Homo sapiens: one gene and its partners. The protein of the gene in region 1 purifies or fractionates together with the protein of each later gene. This does not show direct contact. Each region holds a gene or a part of one and is shown in the gene's direction. Other genes may lie near its edges. The genes, in order: EHMT1, CBX1 and CTBP1.

The links.
Region 2: the proteins of EHMT1 (region 1) and CBX1 purify together in Homo sapiens (affinity purification with mass spectrometry; 3 studies listed by BioGRID and IntAct, with this or other methods). This does not show direct contact.
Region 3: the proteins of EHMT1 (region 1) and CTBP1 purify together in Homo sapiens (affinity purification with mass spectrometry; 5 studies listed by BioGRID and IntAct, with this or other methods). This does not show direct contact.

The regions. Positions count from the first base shown.
Region 1 is NC_000009.12:137,829,626-137,837,421, forward strand, and holds the end of EHMT1 (histone-lysine N-methyltransferase EHMT1), read left to right. Parts: intron 1-4,723; coding exon 4,724-4,899; intron 4,900-5,147; coding exon 5,148-5,328; 3' UTR 5,329-6,502; downstream 6,503-7,796. UniProt on the Homo sapiens protein: Histone methyltransferase that specifically mono- and dimethylates 'Lys-9' of histone H3 (H3K9me1 and H3K9me2, respectively) in euchromatin.
Region 2 is NC_000017.11:48,069,153-48,079,325, reverse strand, and holds the end of CBX1 (chromobox protein homolog 1), read left to right. Parts: intron 1-2,284; 5' UTR 2,285-2,321; coding exon 2,322-2,461; intron 2,462-3,147; coding exon 3,148-3,325; intron 3,326-4,225; coding exon 4,226-4,320; intron 4,321-7,746; coding exon 7,747-7,891; 3' UTR 7,892-9,267; downstream 9,268-10,173. UniProt on the Homo sapiens protein: Component of heterochromatin. Recognizes and binds histone H3 tails methylated at 'Lys-9', leading to epigenetic repression. Interaction with lamin B receptor (LBR) can contribute to the association of the heterochromatin with the inner nuclear membrane.
Region 3 is NC_000004.12:1,244,397-1,255,383, reverse strand, and holds the start of CTBP1 (C-terminal-binding protein 1), read left to right. Parts: upstream 1-6,253; 5' UTR 6,254-6,428; coding exon of another isoform or gene 6,429-6,468; intron 6,469-6,655; exon of another isoform or gene 6,656-7,176; intron 7,177-10,987. UniProt on the Homo sapiens protein: Corepressor targeting diverse transcription regulators such as GLIS2 or BCL6. Has dehydrogenase activity. Involved in controlling the equilibrium between tubular and stacked structures in the Golgi complex.

The DNA.
Region 1 (7,796 bases):
TGTATGATACTTGGCACATCCCAGAAGTTTCTTCCTACCAGCAGCCCACACAGTGGCCTATGGGGGAGACTGGCCAACGGCCTGAGAAATCCCATGGTCCACATTTCTGTGTGCCCCCCGTGGTGTCACCTCACTTGTTCTCTTATCCCGTGTTTGCGGCCAGCTGGGAGGAAGGGCTGAGGTTTGGCGACACTCACACCGGGGCTGCTGTGTCCCATAGGGAGCTTTATGGCCACCTCGACTGGCCACCCCGAGCATCCATGCCTTCCCTGTTTATTAACAGACATTCTTCTGTTTAAATAAATAAACCTTAAACCTGGGCTTTGTGGTTACTCCTCAGAGAAAGGCAAGATCAATGCTTTATTCTTACCATTTAGTTATCAAGTTTCAGAGGGAGGAAGTAGCAGCAAAGAAATTTTGGTCTTTTTTTTCTTTCCTCTGTTTTGAGTGTTAATGTGGGCTCATGGATTTTTACTTTTTTTTTTTGTTTACATTTTTACATGTGTGTTTGATCAGTTATAGCCATTCTTATTTAATGGTCAAACTGCCCCATCTTTGGCCATGGGGAGCCCATGCAGGCGAGCCCGTCTCCTTTGGTGACACTGCTCTTCGGTACCATGTGACACCCAGGCCTCCCTTATGTTCCTTGCCCCACACTTGGAATCAGCCATTTCTCCAGGATGTCCTTGTGCTTTTGGAAGAGAAAGATTTTTAGACACTGAAATGAGACTCTGGGGTGCCCACTGCTGTCAGGGTGCCATGGGCTCTTGACTCACTTTTCAGAGGACAGAGTTATGAAGTAAATAGATTTTTAAAAATGTGTTCATGTTAATATTTCCAATTCAAATTTAACAGTGTAGAGTTTTTATCCAACTTCTTTGATTTTATATTTGCATCTCTTACAATAAAAATTTTGGTTTCTAAAATCTTTAGTTTCAAAATAGCACTCCAGATATTACCGATAACAGTAAGCACCAGTCCAGCTCCCGGATGGCATCTGCGCTTCTTTGCAGCGTCTCACTCCTTAGAACATGTCCCATGGAAGCTGGGCCCAGTCTTGTGCTTCGCGGCACCAGAAATGTTGCTTGTGTGATTGTGTCACTGGCTTGATAGGCAGTTACATTAATTTTAGTTCATTTTAAATGTTACAATTTAATTTTTTGTTTTTTGATTGTGTAAAATTTTTGCATGCTTGGGAAGTTCACACCCAGAAAAGCCTTGCTTCTCTCCATGTTCTCTGTATTCTGTTTCCTGCTGTCTTAGTCCATTCGAGCTGTGATAGCAAAACACTGTAAACCGTGAGGCTTACAAATAACAGGAATGTATTTCTCACTGCTCTGGGGGCTGGAAGTCCCAAGATGAAGGTGTTAGTAGATCTGGTGTCTGGGGAGGGTTTCCTGGTTCGTAGCCAGTGCCTTCTCACTGTGTCCCCACGTGGTGGAGGGGGTGCAGCAGTTCTCTGGGGTCCCTTTTATGAGGGCACAATTCCCTCCACTCCCATGACCTAATCGCTTTCCCAAAGCCTCACCCTAACCTTGGGGTCTCAGCCTGTGAGTCTGGTCGGGGGGCACACACATTCCAACTGTAGCACCTGCAGTAACCATCAGCAGAAATCGAGAAAAAATACTCAAGTAGATTTCTTATTCCTTCTCTTTTCTTACACAAAAAGTGGTAGAGTGTAGATAGTGCACGAGCCCTTACCTTTCTCCCGACAGGATTTGGGGAGAGTCATCATATTGTCCGTACATGGAAATCTTTCTCCTTCTTTTTGGGGCATTCAGGTTGATTTCAGCCCTTGCTATTTATCTCAAATAATGTTGCGTACAAGTCAATTTGTTTGACTTTACCTGTCATTAGGCAAATCTCTGAGATTCTGTTCATCCACCCAGTGATGGCTTCAGCAGCCAGTGAATTTCGATGTAGAATTTCCGTTGGATTCTTTTTCTGTTTCTCCGCTGAGACTTCTCATTTCTCTGATATTTTCATGCCTTGAAATCTTTCTTTGTTCTTCATTGAGGACAGCCTTAGGAGCTGCCTTGAAAATACGTGTCTGTTGGCCCAGTGTCTGGTTCATCTCAAGGCTGGACTCAGTTGAGTGTTCTTTCGGACGTGTTCGTTTCCTCAGTGTTTCAAGCGTCAGGTCCCTTGAGTTGTTCCTGTTAACATGTGGGGAGGACTCTGGTTTCTCTTCTGCGTGGGCCTTGTTTCCCTAGTGCGATTGGCTGGGCCCCTTCTGCAGGCCCGGCCTCTCTAGTGGTCCCTGTGCTTTCGCCTCAGTCCTAGGATTGGCTGGGCTCCCTCCACAGGCTCCGCCTCCTACGTGGCTGCTGCACTTCGCCCCAGTCCTAGGATTGGCTGGGCTCCCTCCACAGGCTCCGCCTCCTACGTGGCCGCTGCACTTCGCCCCAGTCCTAGGATTGGCTGGGCTCCCTCCACAGGCTCCGCCTCCTACGTGGCCGCTGCACTTCGCCCCAGTCCTAGGATTGGCTGGGCTCCCTCCGCAGAACCCCCCAACCCCACGTGGCCCCTGTGCCTTCCCTCCAGTCCTAGGATTGGCCAGGCTCCCTCCACAGGCCCCACCTCCTACATGGCCTGTGTGCCTTCATTCCAGTCCTAGGATTGGCTGGGCTCCCTCCTCAGGCCCCGCTTCCCACGTGGCCTCTGCACCTCGCTCCCGTCCTAGAATTGGCTGGGCTCCCTCCACAGGCCCCGCCTTCCACGTGGCCTCTGCACCTCGCTCCCGTCCTAGAATTGGCTGGGCTCCCTCCACAGGCCCCGCCTCCCACGTGGCCACTGCACTTTGCTCCCATCCTAGGATTGGCTGGTCTCCCTCAGGCCCCGCCTCCCACGCGGCCTCTGCACCTCGCTCCAGTCCTAGGATTGGCTGGGCTCCCTCCGCAGGCCCTCCCCCCACCCACCCATGTGGCCCCTGTGCCTTCTCTCCAGTCCTAGGATTGGCTGGGCTCTCTCCGCAGGCCCCGCCTCCCACGTTGCCTATCTGCCTTACTCCAGCCGTCCTTCTCTGGACTGTTGTCTTTATCTGGTTCTGGTCGGGCAGAGATTTGTGTCACAGACTTTGACACCCCACCCATCTTAGAAGCTCGGAGCAGCGCTGTGTGCTCTGCCAGACGAGCTGCCCCTGGTGAAAGCTGGGCCTGGCCCCTCCAGTCGGAAGCCCCTCACTCTCCATTTTGCTGCTTATCAAGACCTTCGTGTGTGCGCCGTTGCTAGTTCCGGAATTGCATTCTGCACGAGGAGGGGTCGCCTATAGATTCTTAGTCCATCAGACCCCGAAGCAGAGGCCAAAGTCCACGCCAGGTGAGCCACTCTGAACTCTGTTTCTTTGGGGTAAACCAGGAGGCAGCTTCCCGCGCCTTTGGCTTTGGGGGCTGTGGCTGGTCCTGTCCTGCGGCCGTGCTCGCCTGGTTTACTGTCTTGTCACTGCCCGCGCCGTGAAGGTTGACGGAGAGCTGCTCTCGTCCACGCCTTTACCCGCTTGTTGGTTTGGGTTTTAACCTCTTGACCTCTGAGCGTCCCTGGCTCTCTGGTTAATGTTCATGCTGGGGCAGGTTGTGGACCAGGTGTCTCTGCCGGCAGGCCCCGCCCTCTCGGAACTCGGTCCTGGAAAGCCCCAGGTGCCTCCTTCCCCGTCTGCCTGGCTGTCGTCTGTGGTGTTGCCTCTTCCCGTCGCTGGGTAACAAACCACGCCACCCACCCGCAGCTCGCCATGGCGGCCACCCACTCGGCCCAGTGTGCGCAGCAGGGGTTGGGCGTGCCGGGCCTCGGGCTGCACAGGCAGGGTGCTGCTGAGCCCAGGTCCCTGTGGTTGCGTGGGCAGCGTCTAGGTTCCTTGCTAGCTGCCGGCCGGGACCACCTACCTTACTCCCACGCAGCTCCTCCATCCAGGCCCCAGCAGCTCCAAGCCCTGGGTCTCCAGAGAGAATTGCTTTTAAAGGGGTTGCGTGGTTAGGTCAGGCCCACCCACCTCGTCCCCCTCTCTATGGTCAATTCAGAATCCATCATCACAGGCCAGTGCCAGGGGCCAGGGCCCAGGGCCATGTGGCCACCCGGAATCCTGGGCTCCTCTCCAAGGCACCAGGGTGAGGAGGACGCCTCAGTCTCTTCGGCCTCGTGTTCCACAGTCACATCAGCACCCGGAAGGGCTGCAGCAGAAGTCGTTTTCTGTGGGCAGCCTCCGCCTGACGGTCCTCCCTGGTGCCATTCGCCACTGAGTCTTCCCAGACCCTCTGGGGACTGCTCCGCCTCCTCGTCACCAAGACAGTGTGTCCCGGATGCCAGCTCCATCCCTCCCGACCCCCTCAGCCCCTGCCACTGCCTCACGGGGCTCTTGCAGCCCCGGCCTCCTTTCTCCTATTGGTGCCAGACAGCCCCATGGGTCCTCGGGTGGGATGGCGCTGTCCACATTCCACCGCGCTGGAAGCCCCATGGGGACGCCGTCAAGGGAACGGCCCGCACCACCCCCACCCCACCACAGACGGAGGCCCAGCGAGGACGGCAGGGTGCGGGGTGGGTGGCCACACAGCGAGGAGAAGGCTGGCGGAGGCTCCGCACCGCCGCCACAGGTCACTGGAGAAGGCCCCTCCTGCATGGCGGGCCTGCGCCCAACTGCAGGCTCCGGGACTGCCATGCATGGCCGTACCCGGCGAGGCCGGCGTGTCGGGGCCTTGCTAACTGCAGCCCGTGCCGGCTTCTCGCCCTGCAGGACGGGGAGGTTTACTGCATCGACGCGCGGTTCTACGGGAACGTCAGCCGGTTCATCAACCACCACTGCGAGCCCAACCTGGTGCCCGTGCGCGTGTTCATGGCCCACCAGGACCTGCGGTTCCCCCGGATCGCCTTCTTCAGCACCCGCCTGATCGAGGCCGGCGAGCAGCTCGGGTACGCACCGCCCCGGCCCCTGGCCATCTCCGCTGCCGGCGGGACGGTTTTAGGAACGGGGCTCGCATTGCTTTCCTGGGCTTGTCTCGGGTTTATGCTAGTGGTTTTCCTGTAGTTCTAAAAACTGCGACCTGGGATGCGGCACGGCAGATCGGGGTGAGGAAGCTTTGGCCTTGCCTTAATTTATCTGGCTTGTGGGAGGTGCCGGTGGGATTCGACTTGGAGCCTTGGTTCTGTTCCCTCCCCAGGTTTGACTATGGAGAGCGCTTCTGGGACATCAAAGGCAAGCTCTTCAGCTGCCGCTGCGGCTCCCCCAAGTGCCGGCACTCGAGCGCGGCCCTGGCCCAGCGTCAGGCCAGCGCGGCCCAGGAGGCCCAGGAGGACGGCTTGCCCGACACCAGCTCCGCGGCTGCCGCCGACCCCCTATGAGACGCCGCCGGCCAGCGGGGCGCTCGGGAGCCAGGGACCGCCGCGTCGCCGATTAGAGGACGAGGAGGAGAGATTCCGCACGCAACCGAAAGGGTCCTTCGGGGCTGCGCCGCCGGCTTCCTGGAGGGGTCGGAGGTGAGGCTGCAGCCCCTGCGGGCGGGTGTGGATGCCTCCCAGCCACCTTCCCAGACCTGCGGCCTCACCGCGGGCCCAGTGCCCAGGCTGGAGCGCACACTTTGGTCCGCGCGCCAGAGACGCTGGGAGTCCGCACTGGCATCACCTTCTGAGTTTCTGATGCTGATTTGTCGTTGCGAAGTTTCTCGTTTCTTCCTCTGACCTCCGAGGTCCCCGCTGCACCACGGGGTTGCTCTGTTCTCCTGTCCGGCCCAGACTCTTCTGTGTGGCGCCGCCGAAGCCACCGTTAGCGCGAGCTGCTCCGTTCGCCCTGCCCACGGCCTGCGTGGCTGGGGCCGAGTCCCAGGGGCCGCACGGAGGGCACAGTCTCCTGTCAGGCTCGGAGAGGTCAGGAGACCGACCCCACCACTAACTTTGGAGAAAATGTGGGTTTGCTTTTTAAAGGAATCCTATATCTAGTCCTATATATCAAACCTCTAACTGACGTTTCTTTTCGAGGAAGTGGCTTGGTGGGTGCAGCCCCCGCCGGTTCCGTTGACGCTGGCACCTTCTGTTGATTTTTTAAGCCACATGCTATGATGAATAAACTGATTTATTTTCTACCATTACTGAACATTAGGACAAACACAAAATAAAAAACAAAACACAGACAACGGTGCTGATTCTGGTGTGGTTTCTACTCACCACGTGAAATAAACTATCAACTGTATAAAGAGAACAAAGTGATTTTAGAATAAAATGCAGGAAAAACTTTTTTAAAGATGTTAGTCTTGTAGCGTGAATAAATTTGCCATCACCTTTTGTGTGGTGGCCTGGCAGGTCATATACTTTTTTTTGGCATATACCTTTTTAAAGACTGTAATTAGTGCAGTAACAGTGGGGTTTTTTTTGTGCAACTCTTCTAAAAACATTCATAATGCAGTCATGTTTATTTTTTTCTGTTAAAATGTTTTTGACAGTTTTAAGAGCAGTCTTTTGGCTCTGACCATTTCTTGTTCTGTTTCCAATGAAATCAATAAAAAAAAAGAAGTACTTTAAATGGGGTTTTTATTATGACACCATATTTCAGGGTCTCTGCAGAACTTGCAGGTCCCCCTGGACCCGGCCCAGCTCTCTGTCCCCTGTCCAAGGAAGTACAGCTTCCTTTTCACCCCAGATCTGTCCCCGAAGAGGGGACGTTCCAGGCAGAGGTTAGGGGAGCCTGTGCATTTGCGCACGTGTCGAATGAGTCTGTGTGTGTCCACGAATGCATCGTGCACGTGGTGCGAATGCGGGCACACTGGTGTGTGTGTGTGTGTGTGTGTGTTTGCATGTCTGTGTCTAGCGCCAGGTGCCCAGCTCTGGGCGTCATTCTGGAAGCCGACAGGGCACATCAGGTGAGTCCCACAACCAGAGGCAGAGCTGCACTTGAACAGCGAGGCCGGACAAGGGAGAGCCAGAGCCCGTCCTACTTCCTGCCAGCCATGACCCCCACTCCTCTACGGGGACCCCTAGACCCAAAGCCTCCAGCCTGCTATGTTCTCCATGCTGACTGGCCTCACTCACCACAGGAGGGCTTTTCGTGTAACCTCAGTAACACGCTCAGACACTCCACGGTTTAATACACAGAATTCACGCAGGTGTTTTTGATGCTTTTCCAGCACAGTCATAACTGCCCTGCACTTTGTGAATAGACGGCCCCAGCAGGGTGCGCGGTCGTCCAGCCTGAGGTACGAGTGCCTGTCACCAGACATTGCGCAACTGCATGAAGGACTGGGCAGGCGGACCCAGGATGGATATGGCCCACCTGTGACCCCTCTGCACAGGGCCACAGGGGAGGCCGCATTCCTCCAGGAGCCCAGACAGCCTACGGCCTTTCACGTCTGCGTCCGTGAGGAGGGGCTGTGTGGGGTGGGCTGGGTTCCCGCCAAGCCCGGGCTCAGGAGGGTGTAGGGGTCGCAGGTCACCTCATCCCAGAGGCAGTGGCAGGAGGTGACTGAGGGCCCACTGGAGCTTGAACCTCAGGCTCTGCCGGCTCCACCAGCCCTGCAGGGGGAGCAGCCCTGCCAGAGGAGCAGCTGGTACAACCCCTTCCCCTGGGACAGCCCGTAGCTGGCAGATGACTCTAATTAATTTTTGTGGCTTGAGTGTCCACCTGTTCTGCTCCGTGCCCTGGGTCAGCTGCTGGGTGTACAAACAGGTATTGGTTGAATTAAGCCAACAGCAAACTTTTTGGGTGTCACGAAGGCCCACCAGGGTGGCCCCACAACTGGGCCCTGTCACAGAAAGTTCCAGCCGTTTAAAATGAGCACCCAACACAGAGCCCACCTCACATGGTCCTGGACAGCTCTGCC
Region 2 (10,173 bases), on another chromosome or scaffold:
GAGACCAGCTTGGCCAACATGGCGAATCCCTGTCTCTACTAAAAAAACAAAAACTAGCTGGGCATGGTGGCACACACCTGTAGTCCCAGCTACTCAGGAGGCTGAGGCAAAAGAATCACTTGAACCCAGGTGGCGGAGGTTGCAGTGAGCCAAGACTGTGCCACTGCACTCCAGCCCGGCTGGAGTGAGACTCCATCTCAAAGAGGGGGAGGTGCGGGGCCGGGGCTGGAGCTGGGTTCGGTGGCTCACGCCTGTAATCCCAGCACTTTGGGAGGCCAGCACGGGTGAATCACGAAGTCACGAGTTTGAGACCAGCCTGGCAGCTTGACCAACGTTGGTGAAACCCTGTCTCTGCTAAAAATACAAAAATTAGCCGGGCGTGGTAGCTCACACCTGTAGTCCCAGCTACTCAGGAGGCTGAGACAGGAGAATCACTTGAACCCGGGAGGCAGAGGTTGCAGTGAGCCGAGATTGTGCCACTGCACTCCAGCCTGGGCTGGAGTGAGACTCCGTCTCAAAAAAAAAAAAAAAAAAAAAAGTCCAGGCACGGTGGCTCACGCTTGTAATCCCAGCACTTTGGAAAGCCAAGGCAGGCAAATCACGAGGTCAGGAGTTGAAGACCAGCCTGGCCAACGTGGTTAAACCCCGTCTCTTCTAAAAATATAGAAATTAGCCAGGCGTAATGGCGGGCACCTGTAAAACCAACTACTCGGGAGGTGGAGGCAGGAGAATCGCTTGAACCCGGGAGGCAGAGGTTGCAGTAAATTGAGATCACACCATTGCACTCCAGCCCAGCTCACAGAGTTGAGACTCCGTCTCAAAAAGACAAAAACAGACTGGGCATGGTGGCTCAGCTCTGTAATCCCAGCACTTTGGGAGGCCGAGGCAGGCGGATCATGAGGTCAGGAGATCGAGACCATCCTGGCTAACATGGTGAAACCCCGTCTCTACTAAAAATACAAAAAATTAGCTGGGCGTGGTGGCGGGCGCCGGTAGTCACAGCTACTCAGGAGGCTGAGGCAGGAAAATGGTGTGAACCCAGGAGGCGGAGCTTGCAGTGAGCTGAGATTGCACCACTGCACTCCAGCCTGGGGGCAGAGCAAGACTCCATCTCAAAAAAAAAAAACAAATTCAAATCCAGTACTTTGATGAAAAGGAAAACTTGGAATAGGAGAAAGTATGAGTCAGAGAGTAATATGTAAGTTTTATTGATATGTGCACATTTTTAGGAGGACTGCTTTTCTTTTTTTTTTGAGACAGTGTCTCACTCTGTTGCCCAGGCTGGAGTACAGTCGTGCGATCTTGGCTCACGACTGGCTAATTTTTGTATTTTTAGTAGGGACAGGGTCTCGCCATGTTGGCCAGGATGGTCTTGAACCCCTGACCTCAGGTGATCTGCCCGCCTCGGCCTCCCAAAGTGCTAGAATTATAGGTGTGAGCCACTGCACCCAGCCTTTCAATTTAATGCAATATTTTAGCTACCGTGCTCTTTTACAACGGTTTTTTTGTGAAGATGGAGTCTTGCTGTGTTGCCTAGGCTGGTCACACACTACTGGGCTTCAGGAATTCTCCCACTTGGGCCTTCCAAAATGCTGGGATTGCAGATGTGAGCCTGCACGCCTGGCCCTAGCTACCATGCTTTATGGTAAAAGGAGTATTGGGAGCCTTTTAAAATTACCAAGAATGGGTATAAAAGTTTTAAATGGATACACAAGAATAAAGAAGTTTGCTGTGAAGGCCAGGCGTGGTGGCTCATGCCTGTAATTCCAACACTTTGGGAGGCCGAGGCAGGTGGATCACCTGAGGTCAGGAGTTCGAGACCAACCTGGCCAACACATAGTGAAATCCCGTCTCTACTAAAAAAAAAAAAACAAAAAAAACAAAAAAAAAAACAACAAAAATTAGCTGGGCTTGGTGGCACACGCCTGTAGTCCCAGCTGCTTGGGAAGCTGAGGCAGGAGAATCGCTTGAACCCAGGAGGCGGAGGTTGCAGTAAGCCGAGATTGCGCCACTTTGCACTCCAGCCTGGGCAACAGAGCAAGACTCCGTCTCTCAAAAAAAAAAAAAAAGTTTGCTGTAAGATTAATTGGGGCTGTTTTATGAGCTTTCTGGCTGGACATATCAGAAAACTATTTTGTATCGAGTGTGAGAAGAAGCCTAACACTTACTATAAGCAGCATACAATATTATCACCTGTCATGTCCCTGGTTTTCTTACCATCCAGATATTATCTAACCAATAAGAGTGCTCCCTAATGCCCTTTTTATTTCATTTATCATTTTAGCAGCGTCACCCTTTACACCAGAAAGCTGGCGGGCACTATGGGGAAAAAACAAAACAAGAAGAAAGTGGAGGAGGTGCTAGAAGAGGAGGAAGAGGAATATGTGGTGGAAAAAGTTCTCGACCGTCGAGTGGTAAAGGGCAAAGTGGAGTACCTCCTAAAGTGGAAGGGATTCTCAGAGTAAGTTTCACTGACACAGGTAAATGTAGCCACCACGTGTTTATCAGGAGTCTAGAGATGTATGAGACCTCCAGTGCTATGATGGATACAGTGTGACTCAGTCCCCACCTTCATGGCTTATTGTTTAATTAGGAATATGGCCTACTGCTTATAATACAAAGCAGAATGACTTCTTTTTAAAAATTATTTCTTTTGAGACGAGGTCTCGCTCTGTCACCCAGGCTGGAGTACAGTGGTGCAGTCATAGCTCGCTGCAGCCTCAACCTCCCAGGCTCAAGGTATCCTCCCACCTCAGCCTTCTAAGTAGCTGGTACCACAGGCATGCACCACCATGTCTCGCTTAGTTGCCCAGGTTTGTCTCTTAACTCCTGGCCTCAAGCAGTCCTCCCACCTGGGCCTCCCAAAGTGTTGGGACTACAAGCATGAGCCACTGTACCCAGCCCATAGTGATTGCTGAGAAACAGTTTTGTGTGTGGCTACAGACCAATTTAAATTGACAAATAAAAGTCATTTGCCTTTGAAGGAAGCCAGTTTCTTAGCTTTCTATTTATACTAAAAAGCTTCCCCATTCCCCAAGAATTTCAGCTTTTCCATAGACATCTGAGGTCTTGTCCTCTTACGATTATCCTTAGTATGAGTATACTTATTTGAGTGAAAGTGTGACTTGCTGTGCCCTCTGGTTTCAGTGAGGACAACACATGGGAGCCAGAAGAGAACCTGGATTGCCCCGACCTCATTGCTGAGTTTCTGCAGTCACAGAAAACAGCACATGAGACAGATAAATCAGAGGGAGGCAAGCGCAAAGCTGATTCTGATTCTGAAGATAAGGGAGAGGAGAGCAAACCAAAGAAGAAGAAAGAAGAGGTAAGAATAGAAGTAAGAATTTTTACTAGCCCACAATTCAAACTACTGTCAAAGTAGTTTTGTTCTGCTTCTTCCCTGATATTAGCAGCTGTCTCTTCTTAGTCCTGAAATCTTAGGTAGGCTAATGCCTACAAAGTGAGAGTGTACTGTCATGAAGCCACATGATCTCTTACTTTTTATCCATGGTACAGGAGCAGTAAATGGAAAACTTGCTGGGGACAGATATAAGGGCAAGTGAATTCATTCTTGTAAAAAATAGTTTTCAATATTTAATCATTAAAGGTGTGAGGTGGCTATTTTGACTTAATCAGTATCTTAAAGTAAGTTGTTTTTTGAGAGTGAAGAGATAGTTGTAAACATTGATTTTGCTTGGGCTGTATGTCCCTTTTCACATAGGGAAAATCTCATGCGCTTCAGACATTGATGAATAATCACTCCAAAGGATTCTAACAGCTCTCTTACTTGAGCCAAGGTATTGGTGAAATATTGGCAAAAGAGTTTGTGATTGGGCCGGGCACGGTGGCTCACACCTGTAATCCCAGCCCCTTGGGAGGCCGAGGCGGGCGGATCACAAGGTCAGGAGATCAAGACCATCCTGACTAACACGGAGAAACTGGGTCTCTACTAAAAATACAAAAAATTAGCTGACGTGGTGGCATGTGCCTGTGGTCCCAGCTACTTGGGAGGCTGAGGCAGGAGAATCACTTGAACCTGGGAGGCAGAGGCTGCAGTGAGCCGAGATCGCACCACTGCACTCCAGCCTGGGCGACAGAGTGAGATTCCGTCTCAAAAAAAAAAAAAAAGAGTTTGTGATTACATTAATCAGAGACACAGGAATGGTTCCAGTCTGGATAATAGTCCCATATAGATAAAATTGTTCTACCCATCTTGTTTTTACAGTCAGAAAAGCCACGAGGCTTTGCTCGAGGTTTGGAGCCGGAGCGGATTATTGGAGCTACAGACTCCAGTGGAGAGCTCATGTTCCTGATGAAATGGTGAGTCGGCCAGTGGCTCTGTGTGGTTGTTTTTTTTCTTCTCCCATTGGTTTCATGCCAGAGGAAAAGAGCTGGACCTTCGAAATTCCAATCACCCAAGTGTGAAATTGTTAAGATGGCATAGTCCTTCGATAGTGACCCTCGGCCTGACTGCCACCCTGGACTCATGAGTTACAGGTAGGAGCCCTTAGGAATCTTGGGTCTTTGCCCATATTTTTAGGAGGTGGGAGACAATCTAGAGTGGAAAGAGTGTGGGAAGGAATTACATTTCACTTCTGTAAATAAAGGGGGAGAAAATGAAATGTGATTGGACCACCCTCTCCTTCTACCACCTCCTTAATAAAGATGAGGCTGGCCCCAGAATCAGAAATTCTGCTAAATTCTCAGGGTTAGGAAAGAATCTGTAGTTCTTCCTTTTGTCCTTAATTGTTGGATCCCTTTCAATTTGTGCAGATTCTACAATTACAGGATCAGCCAGCAGGGGTCAGCAAGGCTCCTTAACTGCTATCAAGCATAGAGCAAGCCTGCTTTTTTCCATTATGAGTATAAATACCAGTGATAGTAATACTCCATGAAACAGCCTAATGAAGATAGTTATCCCAACAATCTCTGTAATTTTCCTACTCTGTCAAAAGAAGGCCATTCTTCCTATTTCTTGCTCATTCTCCCCACAAAGTGGATCTCAATGATTGTATTTAAAATTTGGAAGGAATAATTCTAAGCCATTGCCAATGAAGGCAGCATTCTAGAAACTTTGTCCTTTAAAACACACACACACACACACAGTCTATGGAGCTTTGTCCTTTTGTCAGTCCAGAACTTACTCTGAAACTCGTGTCTGTACTAATTATCCTCTTTTACAGTATGGCTGGAGGGGCCTAACTTTAGCACCACTGAAAGCCAGAGTCACAACTAACTAACCTATTCTCTTCTATGTATTCCCTAGGCAGTTACTGGAGCTGCCCCTCTTTTAGCTGATTTATTGTTAACCTATAAGAGAAAAGTTCATTTTTAAGATGCTGCTTATTGGGTGGGAGAAGTTATACTGTGAGTTACTCAGTTTAGCTAGAATATACTTTTTCTGCATGTGACCAGTGTGAGTTACAGTAGTATCTCCATATTGCTTAAGATTGTACTCCTTTGGTTGACTCACTACTGTCTTTTTTTTTTTTTTTTTTTTTGAGACAGTCTCACTCTTTCGCCCAGGCTGGAGTGCAGTGGCACGATCTCAGCTCACTGCAACCTCCGCCCCTCCGGGTTCAATGATTCTTCTGCCTCAGCCTCTCAAGTAGCTGGGATTACAGGCATGTGCTACCACGCCTGGCTGATTTTTGTATTTTTCATAGAGATGGGGTTTCACCATGTTGGCCAGGCTGGTCTCAAACTCCTGACCTCAGGTGATCCACCCACCTCAGCCTCCCAAGGTGCTAGGATTACAGGCGTGAGCCACTGCACCTGGCCGACTCACTGCTGTCTACAGGTTAAAACTGGATTTGATTATAAGACAAAGTACATTTTAAAAAGTTATTTTACTGGAGAATAGAGATTTTTGTATATTTCTAAAAGTAGTAAATATTTCTGGGGAGTGAAATGACTAAATTTAACTCAGAGGGTGTTGTTCAGCTGTCAGCAAATGGCAGCATGCTTCAGATTCCCATTTCCCTCCCATTCTCTTGGGTCCATTGTTCAAAAACATACATTATCAGCTTACTCTTCTGCTCTATGGGACTATGTGGCTCTGATTTCCTGTTATTAAGGTTCTAGAGATTTGGGGTGGTGCTTTGTCAGAGATGTCATCAGGTGTCTCCTGCTTGCTTTACGCTACTGCTTCTGTCTAGGACATTCCTAATAACCTGAAGATAAGAGTTTGTTTTTTTTTTAAATGAGACAGAGTCTCGCTCTGTCACCCAGGCTGAAGTGCAGTGAGGCGATCTCTGTTCACTACAACCTCCACCTCCCAGGTTCAAGCGATTCTTGTGCCTCAGCCTCCCGAATAGTTGGGATTACAGGCGCACGCCACCATGCCTGGCTAATTTTTGTATTTTTAGTAGCAACACGGTTTTGCCATGTTGACCAGGCTGGTCTTGAACTCCTGGGCCTGCCCACCTTGGCCTCCCAAAGTGCTGGGATTATAGGCGTGAGCTACTGCTCCCTGCCTAAGAGTTTACTCCTAATTCCCTTATAATGTGTATGATTTTCAAATTTTGAAAACTTTTTTTTTTTGAGACAGAGTCTCACTCTGTCGCCCAGGCTGGAGTGCAGTGGCATGATCTCGGCTCACTGCAAGCTCTGCCTCCCAGTTTCACGCCATTCTCCTGCCTCAGCCTCCCAAGTAGCTGGGACTACAGGTGCCTGCCACCACACCAGGCTAATTTTTGTATTTTTAGTAGAGACAGGGTTTCACCGTGTTAGCCAGGATGGTCTCGATCTGACCTCGTGATCCACCTGCCTCGGCTTCCCAAAGTGCTGGGATTACAGGTGTGAGCCACTGCGGCCAGCCACTTGAAAACATTTTAAAATTCAGAAAACTACAGCTCCCTCATTTTCTACTCCCGATGTTGAAACATCATTTCAAAGCACCTGGAAGTTATGCGAGGATAGCATTTGGAAGTGTCAGTGTAATTACGATTATGCAAAAAGTGTCCATCTTCATTTGCTCTGGCCAATGCCAGATGTGGTATTTAATCCTATTACGGGCCGGGCGAGGTGGCTCATGCCTGTAATCCCAACACTTTGGGAGGCTGAGGCAGGTGGATCACCTGATGTCAGGAGTTCAAGATGAGCCTGGCCAACATCTTTAGTAGAGATGGCAAAACCCCATCTCTACTAAAAATACAAAAATTAGCTGGGTGTGGTGGCGCACACCTATAATTCCAGCTATTAGGGGAGGCTGAGGCAGGAAAATCGCTTGAACCCAGGAGGTGGAGGTTGTGGTGATCCGAGATCATGCCACTGCACTCCAGGCTGGGCAACAGAGTGAGATTCTGTCTCAAAAAAAAAAAAAAAAAAATCCTATTACAAAGCCAAGATTTCTCCATGGGTTCTTATCAGCTGGGATATGGCTTTTGGAGGAGTGTGGTAACTTCTCTTCCCTCAGAGAATCTAGGTATCCTCTCTTCCCTCAGAGAATCTAGAGAGTCATGCTTTTTGGGGCCTTGCCCAGATGTTCAGATGTGATTGGTTAAGTCCATTGACCTGGCTTTTGACATACACGAATCCCCAGAGGGAATTTTCAACAGGAGAGTTAACTCTGAGGATGTCACTTGACATACAATTGCCAGTAAATGCTGCTTGGGCCACGTTTTCATTGTTCCCTAGCCTATTTTTCTAAAATTACCATTTTTAAAGCACTGTCCCCTGGGTTATCCAACTTAGGATAGACCACCAGCACCTGGTCTCAAAGTCTCTCTTTGCTTTATTCTGCAGGAAAAACTCTGATGAGGCTGACCTGGTCCCTGCCAAGGAAGCCAATGTCAAGTGCCCACAGGTTGTCATATCCTTCTATGAGGAAAGGCTGACGTGGCATTCCTACCCCTCGGAGGATGATGACAAAAAAGATGACAAGAACTAACGCTCCTGAGTACCAGCCCCTGTCACATCTGACTGTGGGTTTCAAGTGGGAAGGGAAGGAGTTCTACTTGTCTTGACACCATAGAGGTGGCTTGAGAAGATGTCCTTTGAAGAGCCAGTATAGTTTCTGTGCCCTGCAGCAGCCCAAGTGCTTTAAAGCCGTTTCAAGCTGTATAGTTTGCACACCCATCCCAGTGGAGGGGAAAGGGGATAAGTGTTTCAAGGCAACCTTTTCTGCACTTTGCTGCGAAAAGCAAAGGGCCTTCTATGAAGGACAAAACTTGCAGAATTGGGTGTGTGGGAGAGCAAAAAAATACTGTAGATCTTCAAAGAGCATCTCCACAACCCACAGCCTTCTTCCCAATAGTGTTAACTCTGCATTTTTACAGCGTAGCATGTGTGTAGTTTTTGGCTATTACTGGTGTATTATTTGGGGGAGGGAGGGATGGGGAGGGGAGAAAGGGAGATGGGTAGCATCATTTTGATTAACATTTGGGGCCTGATAGGGGAAATGGTGAAGCAATGGAAAAGAACAGACAACTAATGATTTGCTTCTATGTCCAGAATATTTTACCTTTAAAAAAATGTCATTGGCACCATAAATAAGGACTGTGAGAGACTGTTTAAAAGCTGTGAAAGTCTGAAACCTATAAGCCAAGGTGTTCCCTGCCTAAACTTATTGCTGTTCCCACAAAGGACTAAGCCTGTTCATAAGTTACCAAAGTTGCCATTTTGGAGATGGAAATTGACGAGGAGGGAAGGTCTTTTATTGGAGAGTATACAGTACAAGCAGATCATTCTGCCTTAGAGGTGCTAATTCCCGAAATTAGAAGACCCTTTCTTTTCCAGTAACGAAGTTATAAATATCAGCTTGTTCATCCAAGCCACTGGCTGAGGTGTTAGGAAGAGGAAGAGGGTGGTAGAGGAGGTAAGACAGTAGGGAAAGACAAGGGCCCATGCTCTTAGTGGGGAAAACTCTTGGAGCCGTTTACTTTGAGCTTTGAACACTGAAACCATTGTTGGCAGGGTTCAGTCACTGACAGCACAAGTTTCACTGAATTGATCCAAGAGTTTAGTGATTTCAAAAGCCTTGGTCTCAGGAGAAGATTAAACTTTCATATTGGGCAGTGGTTCACTTTAAAACACACACATACACACACAAAACAATTTTTTAAGAAATCCTAATAAGTAACATACCCAAAATGCTCTGTCTTGAGTCATGAGAACCATCAGTTCTTGATATTGTCTAGACTTGCATCTAGAGCTACGTTGTAAAATTCTTTTAGGCATGTGTTAGATTTCTGTGTAAACTTTGTTTAAATGTAAACTTCATACTACATTGTCAGTTTTTGTCTTAATAAAACTATAGATTTATAATCCCTGATTTCTGTCTTAAGTCTTACCAGGAACCCTTCTTGCCTTATAGGTTCAGCCTGTTGGAAATGGCTTCCTCACTTGAATGGTTTTATTTCTTGAACACTGTAGGCTTGAAAATCTAGTGCCTGGCCTGAATCTTTAAGTGGTCACACCATGTTAATTTAGTAAATACTTACTGGGCATTTATCAGTTGCTGCAGAGGTTGTAAAGATGGTCGCATCATGCTGTCTTCAGTACTGCCAAAAGTTTATTGAGCACTCTGACCTGATAGCACTTCCAAACTATGGTATATTTGGAAACATGGGTTTTTAAGTTAGGTTTAGATCCTGCCTATGGTATGTAATAGATTATATGACCTTGGCTAAAATCTACTTCTCCAAAATTTTCCAGGAATTTGGCCCTGTGTTTGCGCACTGATTTAAAACGTCATTTTCTGCCTATGATTTTTTTTTTTTTTTTTTGAGATGGAGTCTTGCTGTCACCCAGGCTGGAGTACAGTGGTGTGATCTCGGCTCACTACAACCTCTGCCTCCCAGGTTCAAGCGATTCTCCTGCCTCAGCCTCCAGAGTAGCTGGGACTACAGGCGCGTGCCACCACACTTGGCTAATTTTTAAATTTTTTTAGTAGAGATGGGGTTTTGCCATGTTGGCCAGGCTGGTCTCGAACTCCTAACCTCAGGTGATCCACCTGCCTCGGCCTGCCAAAGTGCTGGGATTACAGGCATGAGCCACTGTGCCTGGCCTTGGACTTGCCTTTATTTTTTTTTATTTTTTTTTTTTTAGTCTTGCTCTGTTGCCAGGCTGGAGTGCAGTGGTGCGATCTCAGCTCACTGTAACCTCCGCCTCCTGGGTTCAGCGATTCCCCTGCCTCATCCTCCTGAGTAGCTGGGACTACAGGCGTGCACC
Region 3 (10,987 bases), on another chromosome or scaffold:
CAGTCTGGTGAGAAGCCAATATGCAGAGGACTCAAGCCACGCCTGGATTCCTGACTCATGGCAATGGTGAAATACTGAATGTTTTTTAAGCTGCAAAGTTTTGGGGAATTTTGTTATGCCCCAATAGGTAACAAATAATGCTATGTACAGAATCCTATGTTACTACTTATTTTATCTTGTGACTTTGAAAAAAATCGATATTTGACTATTGCTTGGCTTTTATCATTGTAATTGATAGGCTGCTTTCATGATAACTGCTTTTGATGTAATCTGAGTGGTTTTATTTTTCACTTTAAAATTTTTTTGTCTTTTGTATTCTGTAGTTTTACTCCTAAATGTAGAAGTGTAGTTTCATCTTTTTTCCCCAGCTGAAGTCTCACACTGTTCCTGAATCTTAGGATTCACATTTTTCATCAAGTATAGAACTTTCTTAGTGATTATCTTTTTAAATACTGTTGCTTCCTCATTCTTCTAATCATTCAGAATGGAACTCTCATAGATGTTTGGGATCTCCTCATTCTGTCATCATGCTCTGCCTCGCATCAGAAGTAATTTCTGCATATACCACAAATTCAGCTCTCAGCTGGGTCTAAATTGCTTTTTAAACTCACTCATTGAGTTAATTTTAGCAAGCATGGTTTTTCATTCTAGATATTCCATTTAGTTCTTCAAAACTGCCTATTCTTCTACCACTCCCTTGCAATCGTATTCTTGTTCATTTACTTCTTTTATTCCTGTAATTCTTACCCATGTTAAACATGTTTAATTAATGTTCTCTTTTTTGCTTGATTCACCTTTTGAAGGCCTTTGGTGGCGGAGTCCGTTCCTGCTGTTCACACATCTGCTGACTTCCCTCATGTGGTTCTTTCTTGGCATGTTTTGTACTTTATGATTGTAAATTCATCTTCAGTGGGCTTTATGGGTAGGAATTGGAGGGGGCTAGATTGATAATGTCTACGTGATTTTGCTTCTATCACTGTGCCTGCTTCTGTCATGGGCTTCAAGGGTATTACTAGCCTGGGCCCAGGTTTTATATCAAGTTATTTGCTGCAGGGGTGGTAGGGCCTGGACTGTGAAACCTGTGAAAATTCGATACCTAGGCTGGGCACGGTAGCTCATGCCTGTAATCCCAGCACTTTGGGAGGCCAAGGTAGGAGGATCACTTGGGCCCAGGAGTTCAAGACCAGCCTGGGCAACACAGCTAGACCCTGTCTCAAAAAAAAATTCAATACCTGAAGTCTAACAAGGCTCTGAGTCCTGATTATCAATTGTCATCAAAACTGTTTCTGTCTCACAGAACCACAACAGGCAGGCAAACACAGAACCATCCTGTTGTCTTCCTGTTCCTGTGGGCACACTCATTCACATCTCTCCTGATGGCGTAGCCCTTTGAGTGCCCTTGTTCCAGTTCCTGATTCACGTGGATCCAGGGAGGCCTCGTCTCCTTTCCCATGTGAGTGTGGAGACTTAAACCCCGGGGCTCCAGACGAACACTCTCCTGGGCTGCTGCCCTTTGGCTCTCACACTTTAAGACCTGGTTTTCAGCCTTCTGTTTGTCTCTGGTTCCTGTCACATCCCTGACCTCCTTGTGAGCTCAGCTCTGCATCAAGTTTGTTGTTTCTATCTTGTGCTCACAAGTTCTGTTCTGGGAGGCTTTTGGGGTTAGACCATCACAGGTAAAGACAGAAGGGGAAATCTACTTTTGCACCATTTCTAAGATCAATTTCTAGGCTTGTTTTCAGAACATTTGCCATCCCCCTCTGTTCTGGTTTGAATAATTGTCCCCTCCAAAATTCATGAAGTTTGATTGTCATTGTGATGATCTTGAGAGGTGGAACCTTTGAGAGGCGATGCAGCCACGAGGGCTTTGCCCTCCTGAATGGGCTGGTGCTATTATCATGGGAGTGGGCTTCTTATCAAAGGGTGGGTTCAGCACTCTTTTCTCTCTCTCTCCTTGCCCTTCTGCTATTCTGCGATGTGATGATGCAACAAGAAAGCCCTCACCAGATGCAGCCCCTTGAGGTTGGACTTCCCAGCCTCCAGAACCATAAGCCAACAAGCTTCTGTAAGCTGTCAGTTACCCAGTGTGCAGGAGTCTGCTATAGCAGCACAGAATGGATGAAGACATCATTTTGCAATCCTACAAGAAAGGTGTTCTTTTGTACTCATTTCATCACTGGCTAAACTGGACTCTGGATGGCTAAAGTAACAAGGCAGGTCTGTCTGCTTCCAGAGGACCTGTCCTGCTGCGGCGGTTCTGGGCTCCCCTGCGCTTTGTGGCATTTTACAGCTTGCAGTCATCCTGCAAGGTAGATGTTACTTCTCTTCCCATCTTATGGCTGAAAACCAAGCCTTACAGCAGTTATACAAGTTATGTGGCAGTTTTCAGCGATTGTATTAAAAAATATTTTAGGTAAACAATGTGGTGTATATACGCAATGGTATACCAGTCAGCCTTACAAAGGAAGACAATGCTACCATATATGACAATATAGATGAACCAGAAGGGCATTATGTGAAAAAACCCAGGCACAGAAAGACAAATGCTGCACAATCTCACTCACAGGTGAAATCTAGAAAAGCTGAACTCACAGAAGCAGAGGGTAGAATGGTGTTTACCTGGGGCTGGGGCCGGGCAGTGATGTTGGTCAAGGGATACATTTCAGTTACATTGGAGGAATATGTTCTAGGGATCTATAGTAGGACATGGTGACTGGAAAATTGCTAAGAGAGTAGATGTTAAGTGTCCTCACCACACCAAAAAACAAAAAGTATGTGAGTTAATGCATGTTAATTAACTTGATTTAGCCATTCCACAATGTATTCATACTTTAAAACAAGTTGTAAACAATATATACAAGTATTATTTGCCAATTAAAATACATACATTTAAAAATATTTTAGATATTTGTCCATTTTTGTTTCAAGTTTACTTGCTGGTCATTTTATTGTTAAAAAATTCTTGGTTGTTTTCGGCTGGGCACAGTGGTTCATGCCTGTAATCTCAGCACTTTGGGAGCCTGACGTGGGTGGATCACCTGAGGTCAGGAGTTCAAGACCAGCCTGACCAACATGGTGAAACCCCATCTCTACTAAAAATACATAAAATTAGCTGGGCGTGGTGATGGGTGTCTGCAATTCCAGCTACTCGGGAGGCTGAGACAGGAGAATTGCTTGAATCCGGGTGGCAGAGATTGCAGTGAGCTGAAATTGCACCATTGCACTCCAGCCTGGGCAACAAGAGCGAAACTCTGTCTCAAAAAATAAAAATAAAAATGACTGGTTTTTTTTTCTGTGTGTACATGACTGACAAGACCAGTGGTTTCCTTTAATACCTCATCGACGTTCCCAGGCACTTTTTGTATTTGAGGTGTGTGAAGTAATAGGTTGGCCCTTGTCTTGAGCGTGATACTGAACACACCGACTAATAAAATGGGGGCCTTTGGCTGCACACCAGGCGCTCTGGGTACTGATGAGCTCGCCCCCAACTCCATGCCAGGAATCAGAACGGTTGCCCGGGAGAGTCGGCAGAAAGAGGAGGAACCGGATGCAGTGATCTACCTGGTTTGTCCTGGTGTCCAGTAACTTGGAGTTCTTCTTTCACACGTGGCTGGCACAGAGGAGACACTCATAAATACCCGAGTTGAATAAAATAGTCCATTGACATGGAGTCGCATGAAGCAGCATTCGTCCATCCAAAACGCCGATGCTTCTTTAGAGTGGACTGAGTTTTCCCCCAATACTAGGTTGTCCCACGCGATGGACAAAAATAGCCCATGTGGCAACGGAGGCTGGCCGGGGGGACCTAATGCCCATGCCTCTGGCATTCCCACCAAGGTGACTGTCCAGTAGCTCCCAGGACAGCCCATCCGTGTAGGGCAAACGCCATGAGCCACTCCTGTGTGCAGGCACAGGGCAGGCCCAGGCACAGGGAGGCGGGTGGGCAGGCACACAAACAGCCAAACGCTGACCCTGGAGGGCGGTGGTCATCTGCTCATCACAGGGGAAAGACTGGAGGTGGGAGAGGCAGGTGCCACCCGCAGGAGTTGGGACGAGCTGTGCACACGGCTGGGCACACGCAAAGCTGAGCCTTCTTCGTGAGCAACACGGTCACATTTGGGTGTAGGAATCTTGGCTGGAGTTGCCCAACGTGGGGAGCAGACAGCTCTGCAGCCAGGACCCCAGTTGGAGAAGGCAGCGCTTGGAACAAGCCAGGACAGTGGACAGACGGGCCGGTGCCAAATAGAAGTCATGATAACGCGCTGACAAGCTGTGCAGACGAACACTGTGTGTAGACGGAGGCCATGGAGAGTGACGATGGGGAAGACGCTGGATCCCTGGCTGGCCTGCATCCCTCTCCGTTCTCAGTTGCCTGTGGAATTCCGGGGAGCTCTGCTCCAGCTACACTGCACATAAAAGTGCGCAGGAAGTGGATCCTGGAGAGGAACTGTTCTTCTGGACTGAGCTTGCTGCTCATGGCAGCCCCACCTGCAGGACCCAAAGCCTTATGTGATGTTTGCTGGACACTCAGCCACGTGGCTGCCTGTTGAGCTCTGCAAGTCCACGCGGGAGCCAGGAATTCCTCCCCAGAAGTCTCTCCATTATATTCACCACCCCCTAGTAAATCACAACCTGACTTGCTGCAGAGGATGGAGTGCCTGGGACTCGTCTGACCCCAGCTCCCCTGGGGAAGTGGGGGTGGTACGTCCCTGCACCCGGCCACGTGCTGCCTTCTCCTGGGCTGCCTGTCCATGCTGAGCAGACAGGAAAGTCCAGTGAGGTCCCTGCCTGTGCACTCCACCAACCACATCGTCCCTTCCCGGCAGCCTCACCTAGGCCCCTCCAGCTACGACCCCTTGTCCCCTGCACCGATGCCTGGCCTTGGAGGTTGCTGCTCATTTTTCTGGAATTTTTTCTTAGATCTCTGCAGGGCTGCCCCTCCCCCTACAAGGGCTCCACACGTGTTCCCTCCTTCATGACTCCCACTGGGCTTCCCCGACAGGGCCTCACCCTCCCCAAAGCTCTGGTGACACCTGCCAGGTTTCCTCCAGGCCACAGCTCGGCAGCCCGATCTTAGAACAGAACGTGGCACGCAGGGCAGGTCTGGCTGAGGGCCCAGCATTGTCAGCGGGGTTGGAGGTCTTCCCGGGCCTCGAAGGGGAGACGTAGGCTTCTCAGGGCAGCCCAGGACGCGTCCTCACGAACCACAGCGAAATTACAGCAGGTATCTCGCGGATAGGAGTCTGCATCATTCCGTCTCCATGCCGTGGTTTCTGAAATTATGCAACTATCTCGGCATTCCAGAGGGCTCAGAGTAGCCACGCGCAGAGGCCCTCCCCATGGGGTGGATGGAAGCGTCCACTCGCGGCGCGAGGAATATCCCTGGGCCCCTCGGGAGAGTCTGCAGGGGCAGCCCCTGGGTGAGCAGGCCCAGTGCGGCCTCTCCCTGAAGGGACTTTCGGGCCCTCCCGGGTCGGGGCTTCACCGGTAGCAGGCAGGGCTTTGATATTAATGCTTAAAGGGAAAGCAGAGCTGAGCTGTCAGGACGTTGGTTAGCTACAAACCCTACTCTTGTTAAAAGAGAAATGGGGTCGGGGAAGGGGTTCTCCAGCCCTGAACTTCCCGGGCCGGGCAGGACGCGGTCCCTCCAGGAGTCGGGGCTCCCCCGCCTGGGGACGCACTGGGGCAGGCGCGCTTCTCCTCTCGGGGTCCCATGTGCCGCCGGCTCTCGGACGGTAAATCAGGGCTCGGGTGGGGGCGATGGGGGGCCCGCGGCCTCGGTGCCCCTGGCCAGCCTCGGAGGCGCACGGGCCAGGCCGCGGGGCGAGAAGCGAGCGCGGGAGGGCGGCAGCTGGCGGAGCGGGAAGGGAGCGGGGCGGCTGCGGCTGCGGCGCGGAGGAGCGCCATTTACGTTCGGGCCCGCGCCAGGCGCTGACGTGGGCGGCCCTGTCTCGGCTTCCGGGCCCGCAGGGTCCTCGGGGCGGACGGCGCTCCCGCCAGCGGCGCTGAGTCCGGCCCGACCCTGCCCGACTTCCTCGGGGACAGGCGGTTTAGAACGTGCGGAACACCAGGCCCGGGGCCTCCGCCGGGCTGCAGCCCCGCGAGCTTCCCGCCAGGCTCCCGCCCCGCCCCGCCCCGCAGCCGCGTCCCGGCCGGGCGGGCCCTGAGCCGCCCGCGTGAGTCCGTGCGCCGCCCGCGCTGGGAACCAGGAGACCAACCGCGAGGCCCCGCCCGCGCGCGCCGCCGTGTCCCCGCCCGCGCGGTCGTCGGAGCGCGGCTCAGCGGCGCGGCGGAGACTCGGCACGGCGGCGGCCAGGCGCAGGCGGGCGGGCGGAGCAGCGGACGGCGCCGAGGCCGCCCCACGCGCCGGGCTCGCGGCGGCGCAGCGCGCCGGAGTGGTCGGGGCCCGCGGCCGCTCGCGCCTCTCGATGGGCAGCTCGCACTTGCTCAACAAGGGCCTGCCGCTTGGTAAGGCCGCGCGCGCGCGCGTTTCCGGCCGCGGGCGGGGGCGGGGCGGGGCGGGTGCCGCGCGGGCGGGGGGCGCGGGGGCGGACCGAGCGCGCGCCCGCGGGCCGCCGGCTTTGTGTGCGAGTGCGCGTGCGCGCCGGCGTCCGCGCGTGGCCGCGGTCGGGGGCGGGACCGCGGGAAGGGTCTTGCGCATGCGCGGGCCGCTGCGTGTGCGCGAGCGCCGCAGTCTGCTCTCCCCGCCCGCGGCCCGTGCAGGTGACACAAAAGGGCCTGTGGGCCTCTGGGCTGCCCCGCCGGACCCCCAGCTCCACCGACCCCAGCCCCGTCGGACCCGGGACGGCACCCCGGGTCCCGATCCCCGGCCGCTACCCCGTCCCCGGTCATGACCCCGTGGCTGGGCCTGCGGGGCCGGGATGGGGCGGGAGCCGTGCGCAGCTCGGGGTGTCCTGGGGCGCGCGCTCCCGGGCCACTCGCGGGAGCGCGCCTCCCGCGGGGAGGCCGCCGGCGACCGTGGCCGCGCGCTGTGGGGGAAGGGGACGGGGCGCGGGTGCCGGGTATGACCGTGGAGGAGGCCGCTGCCCTCAGACCGGGCCCAAAGCGCAGCCCCCGGCGGTGACGCGGGAGGGCCCGGGGTCTCCGTTCCCGCGAACTCCGCGAGGTCCCGGACCGGCCCAGCGCCCCCACCTGCCCTTGCCTGGGCCCGCCCAGGTCCCGGGGCGCCTTCCTCGCGGGCTGCGGCCGCGGAAGCAGGGAGCACGGGCGGGCGCCGGGCTTGCCACCATCGCCATCTTGCAGCGCCCGCGTCCTGGGCCGGCCCGAGCCGCTGCGCGGAGCCTCTCTTTCCCTCGACCCGGCTGCAAAGGCAGAGTCCGTGCGCCTGAGCCCCGGGCCGAGACTGGAGCGTTCTCTGGCGGCCTCCAAGGGCGCCGGTGTCTGGAAGCCCGGCCTGGGCCAGATCCCTTTTGCTGTCGTCTCCGTGATTGCCGGGACAGAATTCCCTTCCAGTGGGGAAAAGGGAAGGCGGTCGCGCCCTTCCCGGTGCCCTGAGTGGGGAGGTGAAACCCTGAGAGTTGGGGCAAGAGGGCCTGGAGCTAGGGCCGAGGCGGCGGGTGCGCAGGGTGTTCCGTTGAGCCCGAGCCCCCCCCCCCTCCCCGGCCTCTCCACCGTTTCTGTAGGAGCGCGGCAGGGAGCACACGTCCCTCGGGAAGAAAACGGCGCTGGCGGCTGGGCCCGCACCGCGGCCGTCCTCGCTGAGCTCCTAGCGCGTGGCCTTTGCGCGTCTGTGTACCCGTCTGCAGCTTGGGGCAGGGTTGGGGGAGAACCGTGGGGTAACTATTTGCCGTTGCAGCTGAGGATGACAGCTGCGGTTTGGGGGTCCCCCTTTCTGTGTCCTGGAACTTTGTAGGGCGTGGCTCTGCCCTGGGCCTCAGCACCCGGCCTCCCAGGTCTCCCCTGCCTGCCCGGGCCTGGCCACCTCCCTCTGGGGTCTGGGTTTGGCTCCTGGTTGGGGCTGTCGGCTCCGCAGACGCCTTTTGCTCTCTGTGATTCTGTTGCCCATCTTTGAGCACCTGCTTCCATACAGGCGTCCTCTGCAGAGCTCTGGGAGGGACACGCACTGGGGGTGGCATCTGGTCACTCCTGGGGGTGCCTCGTCCGCCTGCCCGGCCATTTTTGGGGTGTCTGCCATGTCCCCAACATGCACTTCTTCCTGTCAGCCTTGACCAGGGCAGCTGTTAGTTCTGAGAGGTGGGCGTGTGGTTGGGGATGTCAGCGAGTAGGATCTTCCCTTTTACTCGCTTGTCATTAACCTGAGAACGTGGCAGTGGGGGAGGAGAGGCTTGGCCCGGGGTGCACAGGACTGTGGGCTGGTCCTGTCCCTCTGATGAGTGGGACGAGCCTTGGTCCAGTCCTGTGGGCTTGGCGCAGAGCCGGCCCCCTGCCATGTCCTGGTGGGATTGGAAGTGCTGGCTCGTCCTGTCTGCCTCCCCCAAGGGCTGGGAGCCCCCCACTCTTTGGACATTTGTAGTGTAAGCAGACAGCAACTGTTAACCATCATTCTGTTAATAAATTTTTTCTGGAGGAACCCTGGACAGAAGTAGTCATGCTCTCCAGGAAACGGGCCCCAGGCTCGAGAGGCCCAGTCTCTTCCCTCGGGGCTTAGAGGTGGCCGTCAAGCCACACCTGGTTCCCCACCAGCCTGGCAGTTTTTCTGGTTTTTCTCCTCTGACTGTCACTTGCCCTCTCAACTTCCTGCGGCCAGTACCCCCAGAATGTGACCTGGTCTGAGCTGACGGTGGTGTCACTGAGCCAAGAGGCGTGTGGCTGGCACCACTAGTGTTGCTGAGAACTCTTCAGGCAGCACTTTGTGCCCGGCTGTGCCCTGGTGCTCCCCATGCAGTGCCCAAGTCAAAGGTGTGTGCCCTGTGAGGTGTTTACCCCGGTTGACTCTCCTTGTAGAAGGACTTAATGTTTCCCACTCCACTGGGGGCTGGAGAGGGCTCCATCCAGGTGGTGCTGACGGTGCAGGCCTGGCCCAGGGCCCAGGGGTGGCCAGGAGGTGGTAGAGGCAGCAGGCAGTGTCATACGGGTTCTGTGGTTGAACTGCATCGCCCAAGGGAACGCTGGTCGGAGCGCCGGGTGGAGCGCCAGGGTCCTCTGGTGGTCGCTGGATGTTGGTAGTTGTGGGTAAGAGCTCTGTGCCGGGAGTGTCTGGACCCCCGGGTCCTCCATTGTCAGCTGCAGTGGCCGGAGCCCACTGCTCTCCCCCGCACTGGGTCGTGGTAACCCACAAGGTGCCACCTGCGTCACTGACCATCGTTTCCAGAAGCCCCTCCGGCCACACATTCCATGTGGTATCTCCCACAAGGAAATGTTCGTTTTTTTCCCTGTGAAGCCAGAAATTTCTTGGTGGCTCTTTGCCGAGCCAAACGTTAACCTTGAGTTGTCTCTCTGGGCGGCCCCAGGTGGTACCAGTTCTCACGGGTGTTGAAGGAGAGTGAGGATGGCCCTGAGGGAAGCCCAGTTGGTTTGGTTGGGGAGGCGTTGGGGCTATGGCCCTGAGAGAGGTGTGGGCGGTGTTGGGACCAGGCCCCTTCTGCACCCTCCCCTGGCACCGCCGTTAACTCTCCAGGCCTGGTGTGGCCCAAGCCACCCTGCCTACCCGTGCTACCCTACCCACACGTGCCACCCTGACCTGCTTGTGCCATCCTGCCCGCCCGTGCCACCCTGCCCACCCGTGCCACCCTGCCCTGCCGCCCGTGTCACCCTGCCCGTCCATGCCACTCTGCTATGCCGCCCGTGTCACCCTGCCCTCCCGTGCCACTCTTCCCTGCCGCCCGTGTCACCGTGCCCTCCTGTGCCACCCTGACCTGCCGCCCGTCTGTGGTGTGGGGGCTCCTGGGCTGCCCTGTCTGCGTGGCTGGCAGGAGCCTCAGAGGCATCCGAGGCTGTCTCTCCAGTGGTGTCGTGTGTAGACTGTGTTGGGAAGGGGAGGAAGGTGTAGCCCTGATACCCCACATGTGGTAGGAGCCAGGAAGGTGGCGTTCTGGGGGTTCCTGGAGCTCACAGGTTGTGTGCATGTGCTCGCTGAACAAACAGGGAAACGTGCGGCTCCACGGATGTCCTGGAGAGGAATCTTGCTGGCAAATCCATGCCTTTGATCACAGCCCCTGCGCTGTGTCCTCTGAGCTGTGATGCGGCCCTGCAGGCCCCGTGGAGTGCGGTGGCTCCCTGGCTCACAGGGATGCTGCCGTCCAAGGTGCCGTATCGGCTCGTGGATGACTTGGGCAGTGTCTGTCTGGGGTGCTGTCGTCGGAGGAGCTGTTTCAACCTGTGGGTGACGGGCCTTGTCTGTCTGGGGGAGGTTCTCTTGGCCCCGTGCTCTCAGCCCAGTGGCTCCATGCTGCTGTGCGGCTCCCTCTTGGGGGCCTGCCTTCTCTGCCATTGCAGGGCAGGGCCTCAGTTTTCTCTGGGCGGCAGGTGGCTGTATCTCAGGACTGGAAGGCTCCGGGTCAGGCTGTGCACAGCCTTCGTTCATGTCAGCCCCTGGCTGGGCAGCACCGCCAGGCCCTAGTCTTTGGGCCTCCAGGCCTGGACAGCCAGAGGGGGCATCTCACCAATGCCCAGATGGCTGCCGGGGACTCACGGCAGGGCAGCTTTGTCACGAGAGGGCCACTCGAGCCCGGAGTAATCAGGGCTTATGGGGACAGGGCAGGGTGAGGGCCGCTGAGACCACCCAGCCTTAGGGTGCCCTTCTGGTGGTCGGGGAGCCCTTCCTGGGCAGCGGCTTTAGGGGCTGCTGTGGGGAGGGGGAAGAAGATGGGGTTGGTGAGGAGGAGCTTTTGGGACACTGTCCTGGTGGAGGTCGTGAGGGAGGGGAGCGGACCGGTTGGCCCAGCAGGGCTGGCCAGTGGAGGGACGTGGAGGGTTGGTAGCTGCCGAGCCTGGGTCTGAGCAGGCGGGGATGAGGACCAGGTGCTGAGGCTGGGGAAGGAACAGGGGTAGCTGCTTGGTCCTGGCG